Linked DNA regions of Homo sapiens. The protein of the gene in region 2 interacts with the protein of the main gene of each other region in a pairwise test. Each region holds a gene or a part of one and is shown on either strand. Other genes may lie near its edges.

Region 1 (7,055 bases), about 12 Mb from region 2:
TCTTGTTCTCACACATCTGTCATTTAGTTGGTCACAGTTGGGCAGGTAGAAGCGGGTTAAAAGTTTTAAAACTCATAATAATCGTGTCCAGAGATAAATGAAGGCTGTTGTTAACAAGCATGACAGAAAAGCCTGGACCAGCTGTTTTCTCCAAAAAGCCAGTGGAAAGGGGGTCCTGAAGAAGTGACAAAAGCCATCCTACAGGGGGGAGAGAGAAAAGTTAGATTGCCTCATGATGCTGAGAACCTCACTCAAAACACGCAGGAACTTCCAGATTAAACAGCAAAGTAAAGTTTGGATTTAAAAAGTAAAAGGAAAGGAAATTCTGACCAATACACATCCAGTAATGAGGAGCCCCTGAGGAGTGAGGATTGGTAAGTCTAACAGAGTGAACAGAAGCAAGCATTTAACTTTGTCACTTGGTGCAGGAACACTCATATCTTGACTCAAAACCAAGAGGAAGGTAGCTTATTATGCTCTTTTCTGAGCAAAGAAGAGATGCCTTTTGGGAAACTGTCAAGTCACTAGATTGAAAAGTTATCACCTGACACTACAGCAAGCACCAACCCCATTTAGGAAGGGAATTGAACTCCAGGCTGTGGCATTTTAACTGCAATGGGCAGAGACAAGGGTGAACTATGTTTACCCAATTTGAGAATTTCAGCTTTTTTTTTTGAGACAGAGTTTCGCTCTTGGTGCCCAGGCTGGAGTGCAATGGCAAGATCTCAACTCACTGCAATCTCCACCTCCTGGGTTCAAGCGATTCTCCTGGCTCAGCCTCCCTAGTAGCTGGGATTACATGCACCTGCCACCGTGCTTGGCTAATTTTGTATTTTTAGTAGAGAGGGGGTTTCACCATGTTGGTCAGGCTAGTCTTGAACTCCTGGCCTCAGGTGATCCACCTGCCTTGGCCTCCCAAAGTGCTGGGATTACAGGTGCGAGCCACTGCACCCAGCCAAGAATTTCAGCTCCTTGGTGTTAAGAGATTATTCTTTCATCAACAGTGATTAGCCAAAAACAACAAAAAAAGGCTTCAACGGCCCCTTTCCAATTCTAATCTCTTCTTCAGGTACAGAGAGCCCGGAGGGGCCAGATGCCGTATTGAGACAGGGCTCAGGTGAGGCTCTTAGGCACGCAGCTGAAGGGAGTTCACCGGCCCAGAGGGTTGAAGACCAACACTAACATTATGAACAAGGCAGGAGTTCCTGCTAACACACCTCCCACTCCCTTTCCCTTCTCAGATAGAACCCAACTTGTCACTATAGAAAGTCTAAATGGGGGCCAGGTGAGGTGGCTCACGTCTGTAATCCCAGAACTTTGGGAGGCTGAGGTAGACAGATCACGAGATCAAGAGATCGAGATCTTGGCCAACATGGTGAAAGCCCATCTCTACTGAAAACACACACACACACACACACACACACACACACACACACACACACAGTTAGCCAGGCTTGGTGGGGCGCGCCTGTAGTCCCAGCTACTCCGGAGGCTGAGACAGGAGAATCCTTGAACCCGGGAGGCAGAGGTTGCAGTGAGCTGGGATCCACCACCGCACTCCAGCCTGGCCACAGAGCGAGACTCCGCCTCAAAGAAAAAAAGAAAAAGGTCTAAATGGAAACTGCCCCCAGGAGGCTACATTTCGGATCAAAAAACTTGCTGGTTTTAATAGTTTGGCTATAGGTATCCGATAACATGGGCCACTTCAGTCATTGAATCAACGCCAATAAGGTGGTGGGGAAAGAAATGGGGTCTAGCTCAGAGCCCCCAGAGGCATGCAGTGGGCTCATCACCAGGTGGCTTTCCTTGATCATCAGCTGCAGGGCAAGGGCCTGTCCCTCTAACCTTGACCACAGAGATGAAGGCTTGCAGCTGAAAGCCAGGGGCCTAGAACGTTCTCACCGAGGACTGGGTGCAGAGGACTAGAAATTAAGGAACCTTGGGTCAGCGCCACCACTGGGCGACCACCACACTCCACAACCTCTCTGGCCAGGCTGAGAGGCGTAGGGGGTTGTGATCAATGGGTCTGAGTCTCTCCAAAGGCGCATTTAATAGGCGAAGGAGAAAAACACCCCACCTGGCTGGGGCCCCGCCATTGCTGACTTCATTGGTTGGGGATTTCTATAGGAGCAAAACGTTCAGACCTAACGTGGGTGCCCCCCTAAAAGTCCCCGACGGCTAAGGCCAGGGCAAGGTCCAAGTGAGCAGACCTAAGCCTGCGCAGCTGCTTCGGAACGGTTCACGGCCGTCTAAGAAGGCCGATTTCTGCCGGCCTTTCTGCCAGGGGAGGAGAAACCCCAGACTTCACAGCGAACGTTCCAGGCCCGCTGAAACGAGCCTTTCTGCTTTCACGAAACCTCGTTCCAGGGGCCTGGCGCGGTGGGTTCCTCACCGTGCCAGCCTCGTGGGCGCTTCCCGGCTGCCCGTCCCGCCCCGTGTCCCGGTGTCCGCCGCGTGCTCACCCAGCCGCCCTGAGCCTGCAGCCAGGCGCGGTGCTGCCCCATGAGCCGCGAGCTCAGCAAGGCCACCAGGCGCTGGCAGTCCCGGGCGACGTCGCCCTCCTGCTCCTTTAGCCGCGGCTGGAAGCCCCACTTCTTCCACCGGGCGGTCACCAGCGGCCCTCTCTCCAGCAGCGTCCCTGCGAAGGTCACGAGCGTCACCACTCTGCCCCAGGTGGGGCCGGGGCTGTCGGAGAGCACGGAATCCGCCATCAGCGCCACCAGCTCGAAGCGGTTCCCGGGGTAGCCGAGGTAGGCGGAGAAAAAGGACCGGTGAATCTGCCGTAACCTGGCGGCCGCGGAGCGCAGCACGGCGGCCTCGGGCGTGGATGGCGCCGGCTCGGGGGTGCCGGGTTCCCGGGCGCAGTACCCCAGGTAGTCGGCCAGCAACAGCTCGGTGCGCTCCCGCAGCGGGTCGGCCATGGTGGTGCGCTCCCGCAACTGGTCAACCATGGTCCGGCCTCTGCTGGGGGGCCGGGCCTTCGCTGGTTTTCTTGGCCCGGCCGCGCCTCCCCCAGGGTAGGGCTGCCGTGCCCCGCCCCGGCCCCCGGCCCCCGGCCCCCGGTATATTGTTTTTCAGGACTGAGAGAAGAGCCTTTGATGGGAATCCCACCTGCACCTGTTCCAGTCCCCAAGGCAAGGCCTGGTGGTGCGCACGTGTTCGCGTAGCAATCAGATGCACTGTGAGACTCGGGTTATTTAGCTCCAGTGGCGCGATCTTGGTTCACTGCAAGCTCCGCCTCCCAGGTTCACACCGTTCTCCTGCCTCAGCCTCCCGAGTAGCTGGGACTACAGGCGCCCGCCACCATACCTGGCTAATTTTTTTGGATTGTTTAGTGGAAACGGGGTTTCACCGTGTTAGCCGGGATGGTCTCGATCTCCTGACCTCGTGATCCGCCCGCCTCTGCCTCCCAAAGTGCTGGGATTATAGGCGTGAGCCACCGCGCCCGGCCATCTAATATTTATATTAAACTTTCTCAGTTCATATTACTCCGTGGCTTCTTTCTCCTGATTGGATCCAGACTGATGCAGAATGGATACTAGCAGTGGTATTTCTGGGGGTTCAGGGGTCTGGAGCATGTTGAAATAGCCCTCCCAGGGTGAAAGATGAGTTGCTGCATCTTGCATCACTACAAAAGAGGCACGGCACTTGGCAGCTGTCTTAGTCTGTCCAGGCGGCTATAGCAGAATGCCATAGACTGGGTGACTTATAAATAAAGGCATTTATTTCTCACAGTTTTGTTGGCTAAAAAGTCCAAGGTTGAGGCCCTGGCAGGTTCTGTGTCTTGTAAGGACCTGCTTCCTGGTTCATAGACAACAGGCTTCTTGCTGTGTCCTCACATTGCAGTAGGTGTGGAGTAGCTTTCCGGGGTCTCTTTTATAAGGACAATAATCTCATTCGTGAGGGCTCCACCTTTGTGATCTAATACCTCCCAAAGGCCCCATCTCTGAATACCATCACACTGGGGGTTAGGATTTCAACATATGAATTTTGGGGGACACAGCCTGGAACAGTAAGCCATTTTGGACTTTGAAGGCAACATATACTGTGTTTGTGCTATTTCAACCCAATTGACAGGCTGGTGGATTGAGGAGCAGAATAAGAGAAGACTCTGCAGAAGGTTCAGGCTGCAGTAAAGCTGCCCTACCACTTGGGTCTTGTGATCCAACAGATCCAGTGGGACTTTGTCCAACAGGGATGCTGTATGGAGCCTCTGGCAAGCACTGACAGGAGAGAGTACAGACCTCTAGAATTCTAAAGTAAATCTAGAACCTCTTCTGAAGATAACTACTCTCCTTCTGAGAAGCAGGTTCTGCCTTGCTACTAGGCCTTGATAGAGGCAGAATGCCTGACCATGAAGCTTGAGCTCCCATCATGAACTGGATGTCATCTGACCTACGTAGCCATAAAATTGGATGTATACAGCAGCCACCTATCATCAAATGGAAATGGTGTATTAGAAACAGCCCAGGCAGGTTCAGAAGGTATAAGTAAATTGTATGAGCAGGCGGCTCAGACTCTTCCAACATCAACTCCTGTTGCTTTGCCTCCTCTCCCTCATTCTACAACTATGGCTTCTTGGGATGCTGCCTATGTCCAGTTGACTGAGGGAGAAAAACCTCCAGCCTGGATTATAGATGGGTCTGTATGATGTGCTGGTACCACATGAAAGAGAACAGCTGCAGTATTCACTCACACTCACTCAGGGGTGACTGTGAAGGGCAGTGGTGAAGGAGAATCCTTCCAGTGAGCAGAAACTCAAGGCTGTCCACTATGTCTGGAGTGAGAGATGGCCAGAATACAGACCTAAATTGATTCATGGACAGTCGCTGATGGTTTAGCTGGATGGTCAGGGCCTTAAAAAGAACAGGACTGGAAGATTGGTGACAAGAAAATCTTGGAAAGAGATATGTGGCTGAATCCCTCCGAATGGGCAGACTGAAGATATCTGCATCTCACCTGAATGCCCACCAAAGGGCATCCACTGCAGAGAAGACCCTGAATCAGATGGACAGAATTACATGCTCTGTGGCTGTCAGCCAGCCTCTCTATGCAGCTGCTGTGGTGTCTGCTCAACGGGCCGATGAACAAAGAGCTCTTGGCAGCAGGGACAGAGGATATGTATGGGTCCAACAACATGGAATTCTCCCTCCAAAGGCTGAGCTGGCTGGTGCTTCTGCTGAGTGCCTAATCTGCCAAAGCAAATGATTTCTTACAGTGAACTAAATAAGTGTTGTTAGAATATAAATTTCTGTACATCAAATTCCCATTTGAACTGGTTTTGACGTCTTACTGGTTTCCTTATTAATCAGTGAGTTAAAAGCTTGGATACATGTTCATGTTTTATTTGCAAGACAGTCATGATTTTACCTTTTTGTACATTAAACTTTAGCAGCAAGAACATTGTTTTCTCTTAGATTTGCAGTAGCTTTGGGGTAAATGATAAATCCTCTGGAACTGCCATTGGTAACTCAACAATGATGAAAAGAACTAAACAACAAATGAATAAATTAACCTCAACATAGAATTTCCAGTCCACACAATATGAGGCAGTTTGTAATAAGACTCGGTGAAAATCCTGTCTCTGCAACTTGGAAGCTGTGCAGCTATGGGCAAGTTATTCAACTCTCCTAACCTCAATCTCCCCATCTAAAAATGGGGCATCACGGGGCTGTCACAAGGATTACATGAATCGGTATATACAAAGTGCTTAGCACAGTACCTGGCACACAGTAAAAGGTTGTCACTCCACAGAAACTTTTATTTGTAAATGGTAAATCCTCTGGCAACGGTGACTATGCTCACTTGCCCCATTATCAGCCAAAACCAAAATGTGACAATATTGGTCTTACCTATGTGGTTTCTGTTTTATTGAGAATAGCTAGTGACTGCTTATTATTTTTTCCACGTTTTAAGTAACAGCTTTATTGAGATGTAATTCATATACCAAAAAATTCACCCTCTTACAGTCCAGTGGTTTTTAGTCTATTCACAGAATTGTGCAATCACCACCATCTAATTCAGTTCCCCCCGGAGAAACTCAGTGCCCACTAACCGTCACTCCTCACCCTAGCCCTAAGTGACCACCAATCTGCTTTTTGTCTTTATGAGTTTGCTTATTAGGACCTTTCATATACATGGAATCCTACAACATGTGGCTCTTTGTCTCTGGTTTCTTTCCCCTGGCACAATATTTTCAAGGTTCATCCATGTTGCAGCATGTGTCCACGCTTTCTTTCTTTGTATTCCATTCTGTGGATGCGCCATATTTTGTTCATCGATTCATCCACTGTGGAACATTGGGGCTGTTTCAGCTTTGGGCTATTATGAGTAATGCTGCTATGAACATTTGCATTCAAATTTCTGTGTGGACATATGTTTTAATTTCCCTTGGGGAGGCTGCCAATTACCGTGGAAAACACACAGGTTGGAAACAGTGACCTCTGCTTCATGGTTCCTGGTTTCTGACAAAGTTAATCTTTCACCATTGGTGTGCTGGTTAGATAACCTTGGGTTCAAAGACAGACATTTCCTGTTGTCACAGTCTTTACATAAACGCTCATACCATACTTACGATTAGTTGTTTATGTGGGTTAAATTAACCATGGAATCACTCCTGATCCCATCTCCTTACTAGAGGGTCTGCATCTTTTTTTCTGGTCCTATTTTTAAAAATAATGATCTTTAATTGACACATAATTGTATGTATTTATGGGGTACAGTGTGTTATTTTGATACATGTATACAATGTGTAATGATCAGGGTAATTAGCATATTAATCCCTTAAATGTCTATCATTTGTGTTGGGAATGTGAAAGTTGTTAGAATTCAAATAGAGTCACTAGTGTTTTAAAAAAACAAACCATGACAAATAGAGCTGGGGAGGCCATGAAGAGGGGATTCTCATGCTTGTATGCCTAATACCAAAAATGATCACAAAAGATTCTGCAAAAATTACAACCTTGCACATAGGCTGCTGCAACCTCACACAAAAATTACTTCTGCAAAGACATCTGCCTAGCAACTGCCTGTCCAACCTCGGACTGGTGTGACCT
Region 2 (7,059 bases):
CCCTGGCCTTCGACCCACCAGCCAGGAAGACAAAGCTACCCAGACTCTCAGCCCAGCCTCCCCCAGCCAAGGTGTCATGCTGCCTTGTGGGGTGACTGAGGAACCCCAGCGACTCTTTTATGGTGAGTGCTCTCAGCCTCAAGACTCCTCCCATAGAGACTGGGGGAAAAGAGGGGACTTTCCCTCCCCAAACCTGCCCTTTGCTGTTTCCTTCCCCCAAAGTGATCAGCGGGGCTGTTGATTCCTTGACTTCCACCTGCTGCCTCTCGGCTTGTTATTGCTCCTCACCTGTGCCTCAGACCCCCCAAAGGGCAAATTGTCCCCTCCTGGAGGGATCCTTGGGTCCATGGTATCTCCTTTTACATCTTGTGCCCCTTGAGTGGCCTGGCCTTTAGTGTCCTAGCAGTGACTTGCCTACTATAAAGTGGCTCCTGTTGCCCTGGAGAAGTCTGGGGGATCTGTGACTGGCTGTTGACAATGAAGGGAAAAACCCAGCCGGTTCTGGGAGGGAGGGTTCCCAAAGGCAGAAGGTGGCCCCCAGTTGCCACATGGGACTTTCTGTGTGTGAAAGGGGAACTGGAGAAAGAGGTTGGGCCTGCCTGGGCCCAATGCCAGGAGAGGGGATGCTTCCAAGGCTAAGACAAGACCCCTTCATTTGTGGGCTTAAATAGTTTGTTTTATGAGAAATATGCCCTCCTCTGGCAAAAGGGCAGGGTTAGACAGTCTGTTTTCTTCTATTAGCACTGCAGCTTATGGAGGGAGGGTAAAGGCTAGGAGCGTGGCTTACTGTGTCTGACGAGCTGATTGAGGAGACACTGCAGTTACTCCCAGAGGGAACTGCCCCTTAGGGCAGTTCTGGCAAAGCAGTTCTGGCGGGAGTCTGAGAAGTTGGATAAGGCGGGCAGGCGGGGAAGAGGGAAAGGAGCGAGGAGCCCGGCGGACTGGCGCCCCTAGCGGTGGTTCTAACGCGTGCACTGGGTAAGTGTGGAGCGCTGGTCTAGAGGTCTTGCCTGGGGCTGTCTCCGGAGAGCAACTTGGCAGCTCTGTGCGTCTCAGTTTTCTCTCCCTCTTTTTGTGCTGCTGCCCAGGAGCTTCGGGAGACCAGCCTTACTCTACTGCACTAAAAAAGTGAAGACACTTTTTGATTTTTTCTTGCTCTGCCTCTTACTTTGCTCAACCCAGAAACTGGAGAGCTACCTCCAGTGCTTTTCCAGAGAAGAGCTTCAACCTGCTACTACGTGAATAACCAACTGTGGTTAAGGGTAGCTTGATAAATAAGGACGGAAGGCTGGCATGTTCGCCTGCACACGTTACCACCTGCCCTTTGTCATGGCACTGTCAGTGAATGGAGAAGCGAAGAGAAGGCTGGGGCCATTCTTTCTGTTCTGCAACTTTTATGCACTTGGGCAGCAGGCTGTCCAAGCTTGGCAGAGTGCTCCAATAGAGGCAGGCTGGCTCCTATCCTTTCTCATATGAGGATTTACCCTCAGCCTCCAATCTTGGCCAGGTCAGGCAGGCGTAGGGAGGTTGGAGCAGTTGTGGAGAATGCTGAGATGTGGATCCTCTATCTTTGCAGGCAATGCTGGCTATCGGCTTCCTCTCCCTGCCAGTTTCCCAGCAGTCTTGCCCATTGGGGAGCAGCCCCCCGAAGGGCAGTGGCAACATCAAGCAGAGGTACAGATTGCCCGAAAGCTTCAGTGCATTGCAGACCAGTTCCACCGGCTTCATGTGCAGCAAGTAGGCACGGGGGTTTAGGGGAGGAGGGTTGAGTCTGCTGGGGCTTGGGGGCCAGGGCCTGCCTCTCTCCTCTTGTCAGCAACTCTGTCTCTGCCAGACCTCAAGGATATTGTCCCAGAGTTTTGGTTATGGCGGTTCCCATGGGCAGGAGGGGCCTAACTGGCTAAGCATCTTGCCCTCATCTCTGAGCTCCACATTGGTTAACTGCCCAGTCTCAATTCATGTTCCATAAGAGCCCTCTCGGGAGAGGCTACAGTCTGGGAATAGGATGGCTTTCTGCAGCTCTGCTTGACAACCTGTCTCTTCTTATGGCCGTGGCTGAGGGGTTGCCCCTCACGGACCTAAGAGGAAGATTTTCCGGGTGCTGCAATGAAACTGGGCAGTTGGGGGGTGCCTGGCTAAGGTACAGTGGGAAACGGGTAACCAGGCCAAGGGATGGGGCCTGAGTTGGGGAAAGTGGTGGAACCGGTTGAAACCTGACACTTTCCAGCTGGGGAGGCCGCTCCTCACTGTCTCTGTCTGGGAACCAGGGTCTGGGACTCCGGAGAGTGTACCTCGGAGAGGCTCCCCAGACCGGCGGCCAGCCGGGCGCTCAGCCGGGCGCTTGGCCGGCAGCCTGGCACCAGCCCCGCCAGGGCGGGGCATCACGTGTCAGCCGAGCATGTGGCAGAGTCCATCAACAAAGGCGGCGGCTGGCAGGCTCGTGCTGGAGGAGCCCTCTGTGCCATGGCCTGGAGGCTGCCTTCCCTGTTCCAGCAGCCGCTGTCTGGGCTGGGTCCCCAGGCACTTAACCCTTCCTCTTCGGGCTGGCTTTCTGGATGGCTGCCAAGGCTGGGAGAGGAGCCTGAGGCTGCATCCGTGCTGGTACAGCCACAGCTGAAGCACAGGCATGCCACCTGGAAGCGAACACATTCTGTACTTCTGGGACTGTGTCCCCAGCCCAGCTGGCTCTGAATGTGTGTTTGTGTGTCTGACTGCGAGGAAATCAAGGGAATAAATAGCTTGACCATGACTGGGCAGACTCCGAGGTTAGAAGGGTAGCTTCAGGTGGTCGGAGGAGAGCTATTGGTAGGTTGACTTAAGGGTCAAACCATTACCAGTGCCAGGGGAAGAGGAATTGACCTTGGCTTTCCTAAGAACAGGACATTGCGGGTTACATATGGTTAGTGCCCTCTGCCAAGGAGTTCTAAGGACAGTTTGGGGCCAGGTCTGGGCCTGGTAAGTCCTCCCAGTCCCTTAGTGATCAGGAAGGGAGGGTGGCCCTATGCTTAGATAATAGATCTAAGCTCCAGTTCTTACTCTCTCCTTTGATTATTTGGTGGAAACTTGGCTTCGAGTTTCCCCTTCAGTCCATGTGTGGACTCACTCTGATTCTTGTTTTCAGTTTCTTGGCCTCCTTCCTGCCCATTCACTCCACCGTGGTTGTACAGGCCTACGGCTGAGCCCAGCTCACAGCTTCCAGTCCTGGTACTGGAGAGGATGGGAGGACACAGTGGCTGTGGCTCTTTTAGACTCATCTAGCGGGCTCCGTGGAAGGCAGCTTGCTTCATTTGCAATAATCTGATCTCTTTCACCAGTTATTCCCCAGAATATTCCCCCATCCACTGGTGAGCCTCTATAGGCTTGGGAATAGGCCGGGAGCCCTCCCTGGCACAGGACTAGGATACAGTCCTGGGGGCCCTCCTAACTTGGTCCTGAACAGGAGGAGGAGGAGGCCCTTATCCCAAGGTCTGGCCCTGATTTTTTTTTTTTTTTTTTTTTTTGGCTCTTTCGCCCAGGCTGGAGTGCAGTGGCATGATCTCGGCTCACTGCAACCTCTGCCTCCCCAGTTCAAGCGATTCTCCTGCCTCAGCCTCCCGAGTAGCTGGGATTATAGGCACGCACCACCACACCTGGCTAATTTTTGTACTTTTAGTGGAGACGGGGTTTCGCCATGTCAGCCAGGCTGGTCTCGAACTCCTGACCTCAGATGATCCACCTGCCTCGGCCTCCCAAAGTGCTGGGACTACAGGCGTGAGCCACTGCGCCTGCCTTGCCCTGCTTTTTGCTGGTTGGCATCACTTCTCCCAGTTCAGAGCTGCCTCTTTGCATGCACAGGTTAGTTTTAGACAAGGTGTTGTGCTTTTAGCCAGAGCCACCCAAGCTGGGGAGAAGGAAAGTGGAGGTGCAAGGCATGAGAGTCTCCTCTGCCTTGCACCTTACTCCACACTGGCTCCCAGGTTTCCTGTACCCCTACCCTCCTGCCATCTACCTACTTCTTACTTACAAGGGTAGGAGGCTGACCAGTGAGCCTTTTCTAGCTCAAAGAGCTGGTTTTCCCAAATTTTCCAGTACAAAGAGCCAGGGTTTTGTCTTCTCCTTAAACAGTTCTCCCCAGAGTCTTCTTGCTTTTAACCCCCTCCTCCCCACTGACCCTACTTATAGACCTTCACCAGGAACTCATCCTGCAGGAAGGGCTAAGGTGATGGCTTCAGGCAGGTGGAACACTGGTACTCCTGGAACGTTTCAGCAGCTGGTTTTGAGAAGTGAGTCATTTTCTAAGCTTGATTCTTATATAAACTACAGTCTAAGATTTCATATCTAGAAAGTACTGTTGTCACTCCTCCATTCTTATCCTTTATCTTCTTTCCCTATTCCCTTCCCTCATTTTTGCAGGCAGAGAAACTGAGGCAGTGGGAAGGAGGTTATTTAGGATTTAGTTTCTAGGCTTTGGGTTCAGAGTCAGAAAGCCCAGGTTTGAATACCAGCTCTGCCATCTACTAGTTTTCAGGAAGTCACTTGACTTCACTGAGCCTATTTCCTCTTCTATGAATTAGTGCTAATACCACAGAATTTTACTGTGATAATTAAGTGAGAAAATACCTATGAGAGTTTGGGACACACAGTAGATGTTCTTTAATGCCTGTTTCCTTCTTTCTGTTTATGATCCTGATCACCCCCGACGTTTGTTCTTGTTGGTTCACAATTCATTTCCCACTCCACCTGGCAGGGGACTCCCTGAGCAGAGCTGCCTCCCCTGAACTTCCCTCCACCTGCCTGGTCCAGAGGAATTAGTGTCCAGACTGATCATCTGTGGACCTTGGCCTTATCGATTTCTCTTCAGGGAATGATAGTCATTCCCCATCATTGCGGGCTGGATTTAGAGAGCCAAGAAAAGCAACCCTAGAGGCAGATGGGACTTGAGGAGGCCTGACCGTCACCTTTCCCCTACATCTGGGATAGTGTCCTGGGGCTAGACAGTGGCCACTGGTCCATAGTCCTGTGGAGAGTGTGCACTCCCCCTTTTTGTCCCTGGTTACAGACCTGAGTTACTCGTTTTTTTGCACCAGAACGACCTTCTCCCTTGGAGGTATGGAGCAGAGGGAGGGGGCGTGCTGATGCCATGAAATCCCAATTGAGTGTATCGACCTGGCTCCAGATGCAACAGGTTCCAAGTTTCCCTGGGTGTCGTTTTACGTGGGCCATCTGCACTTTCAGCGCATTTCCCAAGAGCCTTGCTAGGTGGAGGACTAGCCTGGTCACCCGAGTTACCAGTTCAGGGTGACTCTTCCAGATCCACAGGCAAAAAACCGGAGGCAGAAGATCAGAGTTAGCAGGGTGCTCCGCCTCAGCTCTTTGTGTCTCCAAAGCAGCAAGAGAGTTGGAGGCAGAGTGAGTGGAGGTAAAAACCTTTCAGAACCTCACCACACATCCCACCTTCCTTTGGCCGGGGCAGGAGTGAAGGTTCCCCTGTTTGCTCCTCTGTGAGCTGACAAACTGTGGCAGGGACCCCCGATGGTCTGCTGATAATGACTTATCTTGAGGGTGGTGCTGTGGTGCTTCTGTGTCCAGCTTCTGCATGGAAGAGCATGGTGCAGATGTACTTCCTCCCTGAGCCCCTGGGCTGCCCTGGCCAGAAGGTCTGAGCCCCAGCTTTCCTGTCCTTGTGCCATGGCCTCATTCAGCACGAGCCTAAGGAGGGGCAGGAAGTGGTATCCCCTCCCCTTGGGAGAGTCTTCTGTCCCAGTGGCCCATCATGACATTTGGGGGTATTTCTGGGCAATGTTAAGAAGCCAAGAATCCTCAAAAACAGTAGTTACTGTAAACAGTCGAGTGAGTAAAGCTACAGGAGGGTTGGAATTCTTCATGTTGGAAATGGCTTTTTCACTTGGACCAGGAGTGGCTCCATTCAGAAAAGCCGGGTTTGGAAATCTCTGAATAGTAATTAGACTTTTTGGCAAATGAAATCTGAGAAAACTTTCAGCCACTCAGTTGAAACCATCTTTAGCTGTAATATCACAAAAAGGATCCTAGACTTGTAGGCAGATCTGTTAAAATCCCAGCTCTGCCACTTATAAGTTATGTGTTCGTGGGCAAATCATGTAATCTCTCCAAGCCTTTTTTTTTTTTTTTTTTTTTTGGTGAGACAGCGTTTCGTTCTTCTTGCCAAGCTGGAGTACAGTGGTGCGATCTCGGCTCACTGCAACCTCTGCCTCCGGGTTCAAGTGATTGTCCTGCCTCAGCCTCCTGAGTAGCTGGAATTACAGGCATGCACCACCATGCCTGGCTAATTTTTGTATTTTTAGTAGAGACGGGGTTTCTCCATGTCGGTCAGGCTTGTCTTGAACTCGCGACCTCAGGCGATCCGCCCATCTCGGCCTCCCAAAGTGCTGGGATTACAGGTGTGAGCCACTGCACCCGGCTTAGTCTTGGTTTCTAATACTTACCTTGCCTAGTTGATGTGAAGGGCCTTTAGGAGTTGTGATACAAATAACTATTAAGTCAGGGACAGTTGAGTACTTTTAGAAATATGTTAAAAGATGACTTTAGGATTTTGCTTGGACCTGACTTTGTAATTTGGGGAGCTCTTTTGGAAGTTGTACCCGAGTTGGTGTTTGCATGGTTTATTAACTAGCAGCTTCTCTGCCTAGCAGACTGGATCCTTTGTTCAGGGAGCCCCTGATTGCTTCCTGACACTTTGGGATTCTCTAGTTATTAGTGAGTGGTTTTCTGGAACTTAAGCTGGCTAACTAGGTTGCTCAGCGTCTAGATGGGACAGCCCCGGGCAGGGGCCCCAGAGGTTTGCTATAGAGTGAGATGGGTCCCTAGGAAGCCAGCCTCTGTCCCAGGAGTGGGAGGCCCACCTAGGACAGTGCCAGGGGAAGAATGAGGCTGGGGGAGGGACTGCGGAGAGCCAGAGTGCGTGAGAGCCAGCGCCGGGGCTGGGGGCCCTGTGTTTGCTCTGTGGCTGGCTCTGTTTATATCGCTCGCTATATTTAGCTTCTGAGTCATCAGCGTGGCAGACTAGAGGCTGAGTTCCCCACACACTCTGCACCTGACTGC

Evidence for each region. The genes of interacting proteins can lie anywhere in the genome.
Region 1: the proteins of BMF (region 2) and BCL2L10 interact in binary tests that used the Homo sapiens proteins (3 or more experiments, as listed by UniProt).

The regions. Positions count from the first base shown.
Region 1 is NC_000015.10:52,109,776-52,116,830, forward strand, and holds the start of BCL2L10 (bcl-2-like protein 10), read right to left. Parts: upstream 3,001-7,055; 5' UTR 2,952-3,000; coding exon 2,463-2,951; coding exon of another isoform or gene 2,393-2,462; intron 199-2,392; coding exon 73-198; coding exon of another isoform or gene 32-72; 3' UTR 1-31. UniProt on the Homo sapiens protein: Promotes cell survival by suppressing apoptosis induced by BAX but not BAK. Increases binding of AHCYL1/IRBIT to ITPR1. Reduces ITPR1-mediated calcium release from the endoplasmic reticulum cooperatively with AHCYL1/IRBIT under normal cellular conditions.
Region 2 is NC_000015.10:40,098,858-40,105,916, reverse strand, and holds part of BMF (bcl-2-modifying factor), read left to right. Parts: coding exon 1-122; intron 123-1,576; coding exon 1,577-1,737; intron 1,738-7,059. UniProt on the Homo sapiens protein: May play a role in apoptosis. Isoform 1 seems to be the main initiator.